Regions from separate parts of the Homo sapiens genome. Here all the other regions are linked to region 2. The links come from fine-mapping of genetic effects on gene expression. A gene starts in region 2. Each other region holds a variant in brackets. All regions are shown on one strand. Distances are between the middles of the regions. Region 1 has its middle 16 kb from the start of KRTCAP2. Region 2 holds the start of MTX1 (metaxin 1). Region 3 has its middle 53 kb from the start of DAP3.

Region 1 (6,634 bases), 51 kb after region 2:
CACACACACCCTATTGGTTCTGATCATCTGGAGAACCCTTGACTAATACACCCTGTTTCAGTAAAATGAAATGGGGTTAAATGAAAGAAAGGCTAATCTGCTCAAGATTATACACAACCGATAAATGAAGGCGGAATTGGAGTTCACATTCAGATCCATCTGTGCCCACCATGTTGCTTAACCAGCATGACTACAGTGCATGGTTACAACACACCATCTGGCTCCTGCCACCTCTCTGATGTCGCCTCCTTGCTCTCTTCCCCACACTCACTCCATCCTGCCCCCAGACCCTGCATGTCCCCTGTGCCAGGCACGTTTCCACCTCGCGGCCTTTGCACTTGCTGTTCCTGTGCCTGAAACGCTTTCTCAGCAGATATCTACACTTCTCTCTTCTGTATGTCATTCAGGTCTCTGTGCAAATGTCTCCTTCTCAGACAGGCCTTTCTGATCGTGCTATATGACACAGTACAGCCTGTCACCTTCTAGCCCCTTACCTTGCTATACTTTTCTTCATAGTACTTTTCACTACTTGGTGAATATATGTTATTTTTATTTTTAGTAGAGATGAGGTCTATGTTGCCCAGGCTGACCTTGAACTCCGGCCTCAAGTGATCCTCCTGCCTTGGGCTCCCAAAGTGCTGGGATTACAGGTATGAGCCACTGGGCAGGTTTAGTTGGTATATTAAATGTTTATTTTTGTCTTGTCTGTCTCCCATCACTAGAGTATAAGGTTCATTGAAGGCAGAGAATTTGTCTATTTTGTCCACTAGAATGCTGTTTGGCATAGAGTAGGTGTTCAACAAATGTTTATTAAAAGAAGAACCAAGGGCCAGGTGCCGTGGCTCACGTCTGTAATCCCAGCACTTTGGGAGGCTGAGGCGGGCAGATCAGCTGAGGTTGGGAGATCAAGACCAGACTGACCAACACGGAGAAACCCCATCTCTACTAAAAATACAAAATTAGCTGGGTGTGTTGGCACTTGCCTATAATCCCAGCTACTCGGGGGGCTGAGGCAGGAGAATCACTTGAACCTGGGAGGTGGAGTTTGTGGTGAGCCGAGATCGCGCCATTGTACTACAGCCTGGGCAACAAGAGCAAAACTCTGTCTCAAAAAAAAAAAAAAAAGAAGAAGAACCAAGAACCCCATTGGCAACACACCACTCTTGTACTTTGAGCCCTTTGTTGAAACTCAACTTCTACCCTGCATCAACTCCAAATTGCTGAATCCTCAGAATGATCCAGATGTTTTTCTCAGCTGCTCAGACCTGTTCCTGAGTCTGTCCACCTTCAGGCTATCATATTTTCCCATCTTCGTCTCTTGTAGCTTACCTTCTCTAGGAAACCCTGACTCACCCAGCCCCTTCTCCACTACTCCCCTTTTAAAAGTTTGTCTGTGTTTTTGTTAATTGCATGTGCTTTTGTCCTGTTGCCCTATGGAACTGTGGGTGCCCTGAGGGCAGGGATGAAGTCAACACAACCTGACTACCTGAAACCTTCCCCAAGGACCTAGTAATTACCTTGACACCTGTGGACATCCAGAAATCCCTACTGCCTGACAGGCATACAAGGGGGGCTGCCCACCCCTCTAAGGGGTGGGGCCACTACTCAGGGACCAACTTGGTTCACACCGTTCTCCTGCCTCAGCCTCCCAAGTAGATGGGACTACAGGTGCCTGCCACCACGCCCCGCTAATTTTTTGTATTTTTAGTAGAGACGGGGTTTCACCATGTTAGCCAGGATGGTATCAATCTCCTGACCTCGTGATCCACCTGCCTCGGCCTCCCAAAGTGCTGGGATTACAGGTGTGAGCCACCGCACCTGGCGGTTTTATTTGTTCTTATTGGATAGATGGTCCCCAACTTATGATGGTTCAATAAATGATTTTTTGATTTTACAATGGTGTGAAAGCGATACTCATTTGATAGAAACCCCAACTTGTGTACCCATACGGCCATTCTGTTCTCACTTTCAGCATAGTATTCAATAAATTTTATGAGATATTCAACAATTTATTATAAAATAGGCTTTGTGTTAGATGATTTTGCCCAACTGTAGGCTAATGTAAGTGGGTTTTGTTTTGTTTTGTTTTTTTGAGATGGAGTCTCACTCTGTCGCCCAGGCTGGAGTGCAGTGGCACGATCTCGGCTCACTGTGAGCTCCGCCTCCCAGGTTCACGCCGTTCTCCTGCCTCAGCCTCCCAAGTTGCTGGGACTACAGGCGCCCACCACCACGCCCAGCTAATTTTTTGTATTTTTAGTAGAGACAGGGTTTCACCATGTTAACCAGGATGGTCTCGATCTCCTGACCTCGTGATCTGCCCGCCTTGGCCTCCCAAAGTGCTGGGATTACAGGCATGAGCCACCATGCCTGGCCAGGGTAATGTAAGTGTTTTGAGCATGTTTGAGGTTGGCTAGTCCAAGCTATATGTTTGGTGGTTTAGGTGCACTAAACTCACTTCGACTTACAATATTTCCAACTTACGATGGACTTATGGGGGTGTAGCCCCATCAGAAGTCAGTCGAGAAGCATTTGTATAATAAAGTGTCAACAGTTGGAAGATTAGCATCACTCAGTGAGTCAATATTAATATCTTCAAATATTACAAAATTATGCAAGAGTAAAGGATCTATGCAAAGTGCAAGAGAAACCAATGAATCATAATGTAACAGAGTATGAAAAGTCCACTGATACAGTTTTATTTATTTATTTATTTATTTATACTTGTTTAAAATTGTGGCCAGGTGCGGTGGCTCATGCCTGTAATCCCAGCACTTTGGGAGGCCGAGACAGGCAGATCATTTGAGGTCAGGAGTTCAAAACCAGCCTGGCCAATATGGTGAAACCCCATCTCTACTAAAAATACAAAAATTAGCCAGACATGGTGGTGGGCACCTGTAATCCCAGCTACTTGGGAGGCTGAGGTAGGAGAATTGCTTGAGCCTAGGAGGCGGAATTTGTAGTGAGCCGAGATGGTGCCACTGCACTCCAGCCTGGGCGACAGAGCGAGACTGTCAAAAAAAAAAATTGTTTTATTTTTAATTTTTGTGGGTACATAGTGGGTGTATATATTTATGAGGTACGTGAGATATTTTGGTGTAGGCATGCAAGGCGTAATAATCACATCATGGAAAATTAGGTATCCATTCCCTCAAACATTTGTCCTTTGTGTTACAAACAATCCAATTATCTTCTTTTAGTTATTTTAAAAAGTACAATTAAATTATTATTAACTATAATCCCCCTGTTGTGCTATTAACTACAAGGTCTTACTCATTCTAGCTATTTTTTGTACCCATTAACCATCCCTACATCCCCCTACTATCCTTCCCAGCCTCTGATAACCATCCTTCTATTCTCCATCTCCATGAGTTCAATTGTTTTTATTTTTATTTTTGTTTTTTTACTTATTTTTATTTTATTTTATTTTATTTTTATTATTATTTTTTGAGATGGAGTCTCGCTGTGTTGCCCTGGCTGGAGTGCAGTGGTGCAATCTTGGCTCACTGCAACCTCCGCCTCCCAGGTTCAAGCGATTCTCCTGCTTCAGCCTCCCAAGTAGCTGGGACTACAGGTGCGTGCCACCATGCCCGGCTAATTTTTTGTATTTTTAGTAGAGATGGGGTTTCACCATGTTAGCCAGGATGGTCTCGATCTCTTGACCTCGTGATCTTCC[C/T]ACCTCGGCCTCCCAAAGTGCTGGGATTACAGGCGTGAGCCATCGTGCCCGGCCTGTTTTTAATTTTTTATGTATTTTTTGAGACAGAGTTTTGCTCTTGTCGCCCAGGCTGGAATGGCGTGATCTTGGGTCACTGCAACCTCCGGCTCCTGGGTTCAAGTGATTCTCCTGCCTCAGCCTCCTGAGTAGCTGGGATTACAGGTGCCAGCCACCATGCCCAGCTAATGTTTACATTTTTAGTAGAGATGGGGTTTCACCACGTTGGCCAGGCTGGTCTTGAACTCCTGACCTCAGGTGATCCACCCACCTCAGCCTCCCAAAGTGCTGGGATTACGGGCATGAGACACCACCCCTGGTCTGTTTTGATTTTTAGGACCCATAAATAAGTGAGAACATGTGATGTTTGTCTTTCTGTTCCTGGCTTATTTCACTTAACATAATGACCTCCAGTTCCATCCATATTGTTGCAAATGACAGAATTTAATTCCTTTTTTATGGCTGAATAGTACTCCATTGTGTATATGTGCCACATTTTCCTTATCCATTCATCTGCTGATGGACACTTAACGTGCTTCCAAATCTTGACTATTGTGAACAGTGCTGCAACAAACATGGGAGTGCAGATATCTCTTTGATATACTGATTTCCTTTCTCTTTTGGTATACACCCAGCAGTGGGATTGCTGAATCACATGGTAGCTCTATATTTAGTTTTTTTGAGGCATCTGTAAACTCTGCTTGCACTAATTTACATTCCCACCAACAGTGTAGGAGGGTTCCCTTTTCTCCACATCCTTGCCAGCATTTATTATTACTTGTCTTTTGGATATAAGCCATTTTAACTGGGGCAAGATGATATCCCATTGTAGTTTTGATGTGCAGTTCTCTGATGATCAATGACGTTGAGCACCTTTCCATATGTCTGTTTGCCATTTGTATGTTTTCTTTTGAGAAATGTCTACTCAAATCTTATGCCCATTTTAAAATCAGATTATTAGATTTTTTTCCTAAAGAGTTGTTTAAGCTCCTTATATATTCTGGTTATTAATCCCTTATCAGATTGCAAATATTTTCTTCCATTCTGTGGGTTGTCTCTTCACTTTGTTGTTATTTCCTTTGTTATGCTTTTTAACTTGATGTGATCTCATTTGTCCATTTTTGCTTTAGTTGCCTGTTCTTATGGTATATTACTCAAGAAATTTTTGCCCAGACCAATGTCCTGGAGTTTCCTCAATGTTTTCTTGTAGCAGTTTCATAGTTTGAGGTCTTAGATTTAAGACTTTAATCCATTTTGATTAGATTTTTGTATATGGCGAGAGACAGGGGTCAAGTTTCATCCATTTTTTTTTCCTGTGCAATCTGCCTCCCTTGTTTCATTCTTCTGCATATGAATATCTAGTTATCCCAGCACCATTTATTAAAGAGAATGTTTTTTTCCCCAGTGTATGTTCTTGGCACCTTTGTCAAAAATGAGTTTACCATAGGTGTATAAATTTGTTTCTGGGTTCTCTATTCTGCCATTGGTCTATGTGTTCGTTTTTATGCCAGTTCCATGCTGTTTTGCATACTATAGCTCTGTAGTGTAATTTGAAGTCAGGTAATGTGATTCCTCCAGTTTTGTTCTTTTTGCTCAAGATAGCTTTGGCTATCCTGGATCTTTTGTGATTCCATACAACTTTTAGGATTGTTTTGTCTATTTTCGTGAAGAATGTCATTGGTAGTTTGATAGGGATTTCTTTGAATCTGTAGATTGCTTTGGGTAGTATAGACATTTTAACAATATTGATACTTCCAATCCAGGAACATGGAATATCTTTCTATATTTTTGTGTCTTCTTCGATTTCTTTCATCAGTGTTTTATTCTTTTTCTTTCTTATTTATTTATTTATTTATTTATTTTTGAGATGGAGTCTCACACTGTTGCCCAGGCTGGAGTACAGTGGCGTGATCTCCTCTCACTGCAACCTCTGCCTCCTAGGTTCAAGTGATTCTCCTGCCTCAGCCTCCTGAGTAGCTGGGACTACAGGTGCACACCACCACCCCCGGCTCATTTTTGCATTTTTATTAGAGACAGGATCTCAGCATATTTGCCCGGCTGGTCTTGAACTCCTGGCCTCAGGTGATCCACCTGCCTCGGCCTCCCAAAGTGCTGGGATTATAGGCATGAGCCACCGTGCCCAGCCTTTCTTTCTTATTTATTTTTGTAGAGATGGGATCTCACTATGTTGCCCAGGCTAGTCTCAAACTCCTAAGCTCAAGCAATCCTCCCACTTTGGCCTCCCAGAGTGCTGGCATTACAGGCATGAGTTACAGCTCCCGGCCTCATCAGTGTTTTGTAGTTTTCATTGTAGAGATCTTTCACTTCTTTGGCTAAGTTAATTCTGAGGTATTTAACTTTATTCATGGCTATTGTAAATGGGATTACTTTCTTGATTTCTCTTTCAGATTGTTAACGATTGACATAGAGAAATGCTACTGATTTTTGTATGTTGACTTTGTATCCTGCAACTTTACTGAATTTGTTTATCAGTTCTAATGTTTTTTTCGTGAAGTCTAGGTTTTTCCAAATATAAGATCATATCACCTGCAAACAAGGATAATTTGACTTCTTCCTTTCCAGTTTGGATGCTCTTTATTTCTTTTTTCTTTTTTTTTTTTTTGAGACAGAGTTTCGCTCTTGTTACCCAGGCTGGAGTGCAACGGCGTGATCTCAGCTCACTGCAACCTCTGCCTCCTGGGTTCAAGCGATTCTCCTGCCTCAGCTTCCCAAGTGGCTGGGATTACAGGCATGTGCCACCACGCCCAGCTAGTTTTTTATTTTTAGTAGAGACGGGGTTTCTCCATGTTTGGTCAGGCTGGTCTCGAACTCCTGACCTCAGGTGATCCGCCAGCCTCGGCCTCCCAAAGTGCTGGGATTACAGGCATGAGCCACCACGCCCAGTCCTCTTTATTTTTTTCTCTT
Region 2 (5,000 bases):
GCCCTTAGAAATCTCTCTCCAGTCCCACCATCAGAGGCCAACTGCTGTCTTCCACTCTCCTTCAGCCTGTGCTCCTCTCCCTCCCTGCCTCACAGTGCCCTAAGTTTCATCTCTTGCCGACTGCTTTAATACATCACAGTGACATTGTGTGTGTCTCTGCCACAAGACTGTTGCTCCTTGATGCTCTGGGTCACCTGCATCTAGCATGGCATATATCTGGTGCTCAATAAATGTGTATTGTATAGAATTGACTGAACTTCTCTCACTGGCAGCCCCCTCTATCCAAGTCACCTACCTCTTTTCGAAGGTGGGTGATGATCTTGTGTGGAACTGAGATGACCTCTCCATGACTGGTCCGAAGGGCAGGCAGAGTTCCTGATATTGAGAGGGAAGTATACCAACCAGACCCTTAGCTGCCTAGTCATACATAGTTGCAACACATTCCTGCCTATTTCTTGCTTCTCCCCTTGTACACACCCTTCCTTACCCCCAAGGGATACTGGGTACCTGAAGGGCTCTGCCAGGGGTTGCTGATCTTGTGTACCTTCAGTGGAGCACCAGTAAATCTGGCATAGGTCTGCAGGGAAGGAAGCAGAAGTCAGAGAGGCAGAGCCATGTCCCCCACAGTGGTATCAAGAAGAGAAATAACATTTATTGAATACCTTATGTGCCATTCCCTATACTTAGTATCTTAGTCTCGAAAAAAAAGGGGGAGTCACTACCATTTCTATTTTACAAATGGACAACACAGGGCTCAGAGAGATTCCGGACATGTCTGTGATTACAGGACAGCCAGGAAAATCCTTTCCTCTATCTCCTCTCTTGCCATCTACCTGGTGAACATCTATCCTCAGAAGCTTTTCCTAACCAGTATCCCTCTTCTTGGAAGCACTGATAATGCCCTTCTCTTTGGCAGTATCTGTGGTCTGTTCCTACTTTAACTTATATGTGAATATTTTATTATATTTATTTGCTTACCTATCTGCCTTTCTGTAAACTCGAAGGGAGGAACCAAATTTTATTCATCTTTGCCTGGCAATGTTTAATATTTGGAAGAAATCTAATAGATCCTCTTTAAAGCAAGGAGTCAATGAATAAATGAAGCAAAGGAAGTCTGATTGCTAAGCTCTTTATACAAAGCCTGGCTGTGAGTCGTTTGGTCTAACAAACAATAGCCTCAGTAAATGCTGTTAAGTGAGGAGGAAGAGGAGAAGGGGGCTGAGGAGAAGGCAGGAATTCCAAGCTAGAGTAGGTCCCTGAGACAGTCCAGCCTAGTAAACCTCCGAATGGAGAAAAAAAATGCCCAAAGAGAAAGGATCTCCGCAAGGTCACACAGCCAGTGAATGGATGAGCAAGGACTAGAACCCATCACCTGAACTCCCAACCAGGCGTCTTTTCATTGCTGCATTAAGCCTAGAAAACTACAGCATAGGGCACTGAGGCCATATCGGCCACGTACGCTCTTTGACTGCCTCAGTTTCCCCCACTGCGCCCGTGCTGAGTAGCCCTGGCAAGGTTTGGATGCTTGGCTAGTTCGGCCCCCTCCCCAGTCATCAGGGCACAGCAGAGGGCGCCGGCGCCACCCCTCACCAGCACGGCCAGGCTGTCCAGGTCCACTGACGGCAGCCCCCAGCCCCCTGACCAGCAGAACAGCTCCATGGGCGCCGCCATCTTGCCCACCCTCTGTCCCGGAAACACTTCCTTGTGTGCTTCTGCCCTCCCCTGCCTGGGCCCGCCCCCCGCCACCGCCCCTCCGATCGTTGCGGTCAGGGGGCCTGGGGAGATCCCCGGGGAGGCGAGGCTTCTTCTGGCCCGACTGGCAGCTGAACTGCGGGGGACTGGGCCGCGGGCCTCGGGGGAGGGCGGCCGCCGGCCCATCCAGAGGTGGCCCACGTAGCGGGACAGCGCTGTCGGCCCGGCGCGCCTCGGAGAGTCACGGCGCCTCGTCCAAGTGGAGCCCCGAACCCCTGAAGGCGCGGCAGGCTCTGGAGAGCGGGGTCTTGTGCGCCTGGGCCAGGTCTGGGGGCTCTTGCCAAACTGCACGTGGCCTGTACTGCTCCAGGGCCCCTTGGGGCTCGTCCCCGAGCGGGGACTGCGGGGGGGTCCCCCGAGCAGCATGTTTTCCACAGCGCGTTATGTTTGGAGCGGGCCCTGCGCCGCCTGTCGCCATGGAAACAAAACAGGGGCGGTGGCGGCGGCCGGAGCGGAGGCCGGGCTGGGGCTTGGGTGGGGGAGGGGAAGAGAGGCTCGCAGGCTGTCGCTTAGGTGACGGGAACTCAGGCGCCCCTCTGCTTCATCCGGGTCACGGCCCGTCCGCTAGTACCCACAGTGTTCCACAGTCTGGTCCTTGGCTCCTCGCCTGTACCCCTGGTCTTCTGCGCCTGTCCCTGGTGTCCCTTTCCTCTTTTTTGGTTTCTTCACTCTGACCTCACTGACCACTGCTTTAGATTCTCCCTTCAGTTCCCGTCAGACGCTTCCAGACTCCCAAGCTTTCCTACGAATGAGGGAAAATGGAGAAACAGGCACTTGTCAGGGGACCCCCCACCCTAATAAAGAGCACTTGCTCCGCCAGAACAGCAAAATTCATGCCATGTGGGCATCCCTGGGCACTATAGCAAGCTAGTTGCGGCCACTCCCTTGGCATCCTTTCCTGCCAGCTGTGGAATAATGCCCACTGTCTAGCACTGCCCCTGCCAGGGGTTCTTGCCTTCCACAATCGTGGCTTCCAGAAAACAGTGGCATTCGGTAGCGCTGTGTGCCGAGACCCCCAACAATGATGACTGCGGAGAGGGAGGCACCTGGGGGAGGATCATTAGGGAGAGGTAGAAAGCAGGGAGGCCTCCAGGATTCTTTCCCAGTGCCCCTGGTTCCCAGAGCTGATGATGCCTCCAGGGTGATTGGCAGCTCTTTGTTTCAGCCCCCCCTCACCCGCCTGCTGGCCCCCCCTCCAATTCTGTCCCTCCGCCCCCCGGCTCCTGCTCTCTCCGCCTAGCCTTTTCCCCTCCCAGCTGCCTGCCTGCCAGGGGTAGTGAGCCGGCTGAGAGGCATGGAGACGCAGGAACTTCGGGGGGCCCTGGCTCTTCTCCTCCTTTGCTTTTTCACATCTGCCAGTCAGGATCTGCAGGGTAAGCCTGTCTCCATCCTCTTAGACCGCTCTCTGCTTCTTCCCCATTTGCCCTCAGCCCAAGTAGCAGAGAACATGTGGGCAAGGGGAGAGGGGAAGAGTCCAGAAATTGAGCCAGAGGAAAACTTAAGACTGCCTAGAGTTGGTGAAATTATGGCCTGGTGGAGAGGAGTGGGCACCGGAGAGTAGTGGGGGAGCTGGAACAGGACAGGGTCAGGCATGAGGCCAGGGCAGAGGACTCAGGAACTGGATGCTCAGGCTGCCTGGCTGGGGTGGTTCCTGAGCATCTGTAGGCACCCTAGGGTCTGGGAGAGCAGCCTGAAGGTGGGCGTACTGTAGGTCCCTGGGCTTCGTCCCCCTGGGCTCCTGGCTGCCCAAGGACAGGGCGGGGGTGGGGACCAAGAAGCCTGGGCTCTCCCGGAGGTCTGGTGGTGGGATGGGCCGATGGATGTGGGAGAGGTAGCTGGAGCAGATGACACAGGCATAGATTCTTTACTGGCTGGAGGGAAAACCACAGATTGGCCAGGACACAGGAGGCAGAGGAGCTGGGTCCTACATTCCCGTGGGAGATAGCCCAGATGGTGGGAGGGTTAGAGTCCTCAGTGGGCAGCTGTTCTTATCCAGAGCGAGTGTGCTGCGCCCCTAGGATGGGAGGAGGGGAACTAGGGTGTGGAACGAGCCAAACCCAGGAGTGGAAAGAGAAGCTGCCTTCCATTTCTACGTTGTGGACACCAGGTGCCACTCCTGTGGGGGATCAGCACAGCATCTCCTTTGCGCCACCTGGTGGGGGCATCTCAAATTTGTGGGGTGCTGTTTCTGTGTTTCCAAGTGAGTCTCAAACCTGCAGGTTCCTGGAAGGTAGTAATAGGCAATAATGGGGAAAGGAAGGCACAGTGCCTCTGTCCTCTGAGAGCAACAAGGGTTGAGGTTTTTTTTTGTTTTCGTTTTGTCTTTTTGAGATGGAGTTTCACTCTTGTTGCCCAGGCTGGAGTGCAATGGCGCGATCTCGGCTCACTGCAACCTCCACCTCTCAGGTTCAAGCGAGTCTCCTGCCTCAGCCTCCTGAGTAGCTGGGATTACAGGTGCCCGCCACCACGCCCGGCTAGGTGGTTTTTTTTTCTTTTTTGTTGTTGTTTTTGTATTTTTAGTAGACACGGGGTTTCACCGTGTTGGCCAGGCTGGTCTCGAACTCCTGACCTTAGGCGATCCACCTGCCTCAACCTCCCAAGGTGTTGGGATTACAGGTGCGAGCCACCATGCCCAGCCAAGGGTTGAATTTTGAGGTGACTAACGCTGCCTGGTGGTGGGGGTAGGGGGTGATGTGGGCTCGGGGGAGGGCATACCTTAGCATTTGATCCCATTCTCTAACCTTGATAACCCCTGCCTGACCAGTAATTGACCTGCTGACTGTGGGCGAGTCTCGGCAGATGGTAGCTGTGGCAGAGAAGATCCGGACAGCCTTGCTCACTGCTGGGGACATCTACCTCTTATCCACCTTCCGCCTGCCCCCCAAGCAGGGTGGTGTCCTCTTTGGCCTCTATTCTCGCCAAGACAACACTCGATGGCTGGAGGCCTCTGTTGTAGGCAAGATCAACAAAGGTGACTGGTGGGCATCTCCTTTCTTGCAATGGTGACCTCCTTAAGCACTCTCCCTCATCCCTACTTCCCAAGTGCTTCCTCATTCTCCTTGGCCTCCACTAGGGACCAAGGTCCCATCAGGCTGTGCCCAGACATCAGGGGCACCTGGTATGGGGTGCTTATAAGGTGCTTTAGGAGCCCATGTACCAAACAATAGGGTGAGGCTTGAGTCCTGATATTTATAGGGATGGGAGGTTGTACTTGGGGATGCCTGGAAGGAGGGTGAGGCATGTCTCTG
Region 3 (5,000 bases), 530 kb before region 2:
CTGTAATCCCAGCAGTCTGGGAGACCGAGGTCGGCGGACCACTGAGGTCAAGAGTTGTAGACCAACTTGGCCAACATAGTGAAACCCGTCTCTACTAAAAATACAAAAATTAGCTGGGCATGGTGTTGGGCGCTTGTAATCCCAGCTACTCCGGAGGCTGAGGTAGGAGAATCACTTGAACCCCGGAGGTGGAGATTGCAGTGAGCTGAGATAGCACCACTGCACTCCAAACTGGGCGACAGATCAAGACTCCGTCTGAAAATAAAAAATAAAATCTTAGCCTCTCTTGTCTATTCTGAGCTCCTTGTAATTCCATATTTATTTAGTCTTATTTATTTATTTTGAGACAGGGTCTCACTCTCTTGCCCAGGCTGGTGTGCAGTGGTGCAATCTCGGCTGACCGCAGCCTCAACCTCTTGGGCTGAAGCGATCCTCCCACCTCAGCCTCCTGCATAGCTGCAATTACAGGCATGGACCACCACCACCTGGCTAATTTTTTTTATTTTTTGTACATATGGGGTTTCACCGTCTTGCCCAGGCTGGTCTCAAACTCCTGAGCTCCTGAGCTCAAGTGATCTGCCCACCTCGGCCTCCAAAAGTGTTGGGATTACAGGTGTGAGGCACTGTGCGCAGCTACCATTTCACTTCTAAGTATGATGTGGGCTGAAAAGTTTCTGTAGGTACTCTGACAGCTTAAGGAAATTCTGTATTCCTGTTTTGCTAAGAATTTTGGTCATGAATAGATTTGAATGTTTTTTACAGCTTTCTCCGCACTAAGATAATTACATTATTTTATCATTCCTTTGTTGCACTAATGAATACATCTGATTTTCATGTAATACTATCTTGCATTCCTAAAATTATCCCAAACTCATTTATGTTGATTATCCTTTTAAAATACTGGATCTGGGTTTGGCGTAGTAGCTCATGCCTGTAATCCCAGCACTTTGGGAGGCTGACGTGGGTGGATCACCTGAGGTCAGGAGTTCGAGACCAGCCTGGCCAACATGACAAAACCCCCTCTCTACTAAGAATACAAAAATTAGCCGGAGTCTCGTCCTGTCGCCCAGGCTGGAGTGCAACGGCACGATCTCAGCTCACTGCAACCTCCACTTCCCGGGTTCAAGCGATTCTCCTGCCTCAGACTCCTGAGTAGCTGGGATTACAGGTATGCGCCACCACACCCGGCTAATTTTTGTATTCTTAGTAAGGGTTTCACTATGTTGGCCAGGCTGGTCTCAAATTCCTGACCTCGTGATCTGCCAGCCTCAGCCTCCCAAAGTGCTGGGATTACAGGTGTGAGCCACCGCACCTGGCCAATTTTAATATTTTAAAATATTTAATTTTTAATTTAATTTTTTATTTTTTTTTGAGATAGGATCTCACTTTGTTACTCAAGCTGGAGTGCAGTGGTACAAACAGCTCACTGCAACTTCAACCTCTTGGGCTCAAGCCATCCTCCCACCTCAGCTCCCGCAAGTAGCTGGGACTACAGGCATGTGCCATCACGAATCCAGCTAATTTTTTTTTTTTTTTTTTTTTTTTTGAGACTGAGTCTCATTCTGTCACCCAGGCTGGAGTGCAGTGGCGTGATCTCAGCTCACTGTAACCTCTGCCTCCTGGGTTCAAGCAATTTCCCTGCCTCAGCCTCCCGAGTAGCTGGGATTACAGGCGCCTGCCACCACGCCCAACTAATTTTTGTATTTTTTTAGCAGAGACAGGAGTTTGCCATGTTGGTCAGGCTGGTCTTGAACTCCTGACCTCAGGTGATCTGCCCGCTTTGGCCTCCCAAAGTGCTGAGATTACAGACGTGAGCCACTGCGCCTGGTCAATTTTTGCATTTTTGGTAGAGATGAGGTTTCACCATGGTGCCCAGGCTGGTCTTGAAGTCCTGGGCTCAAGCAATCCTCCCGCCTCGGCATCCCAAAGTGCTGGAATTACAGGCCTGAGTCACTGTGCCCTGCCAGCCAGTATTTTCAACGTACAAAATTTTTAAGTTTTGTGTTTAGTAATTTCACAATCATTTAATTTGAATTACTTTCTCATTTCCATTCTGATCTTTCTCCCTGACCAATGGGCACATCAGAAAAGTATGTTTTAATTTCCAGACACATGAGGAGTTTCTATTTCTCTTTTTGTTACTGGTTTCTAGTTTAAATTGCATTAGAATCAGAGTACACGGCTGTATGATTTAAATTCTTTGAAATATATTGAGCTGGTTTATGGTCCATTGTCAGTCAATTTTGAACAGGTTCTTTATGTGCTT[C/G]AAAAGAAAGTACATTCAGAAGTTTTGGGATTTGATAGGTGGAAGGTGAGGCCAGAAAGGCAGGTCCACTCCGTATAACTTCTATTGAAAAAGATCTGTGAGGCCGGGCTCGGTGGCTCACACCTGTAATCCCAGCACTTTGGAAGGCCGAAGTGAGCGGATCACCTGAGGTCAGGAGTTTGAGAACAGCCTGGCCAGTATGGTGACACCCCGTCTCTGCTATAAATACAAAACAGCCGGACGTGGTGGTGTGCACCTGTAAGCCCAGCTACTAGGGAGGCTGAGTCAGGAGGATAGCTTGAACCAAGGTTGCAGAGGTTACAGTGAGCCGAGATCATGCCACTGTACTCCCGCCTGGGCAACAGAGCAAGACCCTTTAAAAAAAATATATATGTGAATAAGTGGACCCATGCAGTCCAAAAACGTTATTGTTTAAGGGTCAACAATAATGACCTGATGTATTTTCTACTTTTTAGAACAACAGATGCTTATTAAATTAATAATATGTTTATTAAAGCATTATTTCATAATCTGCCTTTCTAGAAGTTTGATGATGTCCAAGTTCAGCTTTAGGCAACTTAATTTGCTCTCTTTTCTCTCTGCCTTCCTGGGTTAAAGAAAAGGATAACTGTAGTTAGGCTATTAAAAATAAAGTATGTGAATGTAAAAGAGCTTCTACCAAAAAAAAGTTGTTTGGGGATTCAATTTTTAAAAATACTTCCATTAGGACAAGTGTTAATCATGCTACTCAATCTTTTATATCCTTACTTTTTTTTTTTGAGACAGAGTCTCACACTGTCACCGGGCTGGACTGCAGTGGCGCGATCTCGGCTCACTGCAGCCTCCGCCTCCCAGGTTCAAGCAATTCTCCTGCCTCAGCCTCCCAAGTAGCTGGGATTACAGGTGCCCGCCACTATGCCCGGTTGATGTTTTTGTATTTAGTAGAGACGGGGTTTCACTGTATTACTCAGGCTGGTCTCAAACTCCTGACTTCAGGTGATCCACCCGCCTCGGCCTCCCAAAGTGCTGGGATTATAGGCGTGCACCACCACACCCGGCCCTCTTTTGAATTTTTACTTGCAATTTTAGATTTGTCTCTTGAAGGGTAGCATTGCGTTTGGGTGCATTAGGTCTTCCCAGAAACAGACGATGGGGTTATAGCCTGGCCAAAGTCATTCAAGCCTATACGCCCAGCAATTTGGGAGGCTGAGACAGGTGGATCACTTGAGTCCAGAAGCTTGAGACCAGCCTGGGCAATATAGTGAGATCCCATCTTTATTAAAAAAAAAAATCAAAATTAGCCACGTGTGGTGGTGTGTGCCTGTAGTCCTAACCACTCGTGGAGCTGAGGTAGGAGGATTGAGTCCAGAAGGTCGAGGCTGTAGTGTGGCCTTACACTCCAGCCTGGGTAACAGAGAGTGAGACCCTGTCTCAAAATAATATTAATAAAAACATAAACTTTAGGTCAGTTTCCCTTTTTTATTTCCTTTTTGTTTTTTGAGACAGGGTCTTACTCTGCAGCTGAGGATGAGCAGTGGCATGATCACGGCTCACTGAAACCTCAACCTCTGGGGTTCAAGTGATCCTCCTGCCTCAGCCTCCCAAGTAGCTGGAACTACAGGCGCATGCCACCATACCTGGCTAATTTTTGTATTTGTTGTAGAGCCTAGGCTTCTCCATGTTGCCCAGGCTGGTCTCAAACTCCTAGGCTCAAGTGATCTGCCCACCTCAGCCTCCCAGCATGCTGAGATTACAGGCATGGACCACCGTGCTTGGTCAGTTTTCCAGTTTTGCAAAAAACCTTCTGAAATTTTGATAATGATTGCATTGAATCTATAGGTCAATATGGGAATAACTGCCATCTTATTACTGAGTACTCCAATCAATGAACATGGAGAATCTTTCCATTTAGTAAGATCTTTTAAATTATCATCAGGAATATGGTTTCTAGGCTGGGCGCGGTGGCTCACACCTGTAATCCCAGCACTTTGGGAGGCCGAGGTGGGTGGATCACAAGGTCAGGAGATCGAGACCATCCTGGCTAACACGGTGAAACCCTGTCTCTACTAAAATTTCAAAAAATTAGCCGGGCACGGTGGCGGGTGCCTGTAGTCCCAACTACTCGGGAGGCTGCGGCAGGAGAATGGTGTGAACCCAGGAGGCGGAGCTTGCAGTGAGCCGAGATCGCACCACTGCACTCCAGCCTGGGTGACAGACCAAGACTCCGTCTCAAAAAAAAAAAGAAAAAGGAATATGGTTTCTAGTGTACATTTAGCAGTTATTTTGTTCAAGTTATTTATTAGAGATTCGGTCTCTCTCACTCTGAGGTTTTGCCATATTGCCTAGCCTGGGAAACCAAGCTACATTCTGTCTCTACTGAACACTAAAAAATTAGCCAGGTGTGGTAGCACACACCTGTGGTCCCAAGTTACTAGGGAGGCTCAGGCAAAAGGACTGATTGAACCCAGGAGTTGGGGCTGCAGTGAGCTGTGATCATGCCACTGCACTCCAGCCTGGGAGACAGGGCAAGACTGTCTCTTAAAAATATATAAATATAAATTAAAAATATATATATAACATATATATAAAATATATACAAATACATATAACATATATAATACATATACATAATATATAGGACCCAATATTATGAGTAATATACTATATATTGTCATATACAATATATAATATACAACCTATTAGTATACTACTTTGATAGTTATATATTACTGTC

Evidence for each region. PIP is the estimated chance that this variant, and not a neighbour inherited with it, causes the effect.
Region 1: its variant is fine-mapped to the expression of MTX1 in whole blood (INTERVAL, PIP above 0.99).
Region 3: its variant is fine-mapped to the expression of MTX1 in whole blood (TOPMed, PIP 0.93).

The regions. Positions count from the first base shown.
Region 1 is chr1:155,153,966-155,160,599 of GRCh38, reverse strand. No RefSeq gene overlaps it. Among named protein-coding and RNA genes, the nearest start is that of KRTCAP2, 16 kb to the left of the region's middle. The variant C/T (reference allele first, on the strand shown) is at 3,674.
Region 2 is chr1:155,205,923-155,210,922 of GRCh38, reverse strand. It overlaps MTX1 (metaxin 1), which reads right to left and starts at 2,228. Exons shown (of 8, transcript NM_002455.5): 1 at 1,591-2,228; 2 at 508-577; 3 at 296-375. The coding sequence starts at 2,118. THBS3 (thrombospondin 3) reads left to right here and starts at 3,026. Exons shown (of 23, transcript NM_007112.5): 1 at 3,026-3,125; 2 at 4,517-4,723. The coding sequence starts at 3,047. RefSeq lists a silencer at 1,679-1,878 and an enhancer at 3,242-4,025.
Region 3 is chr1:155,739,677-155,744,676 of GRCh38, reverse strand. No RefSeq gene overlaps it. Among named protein-coding and RNA genes, the nearest start is that of DAP3, 53 kb to the right of the region's middle. The variant C/G (reference allele first, on the strand shown) is at 2,267.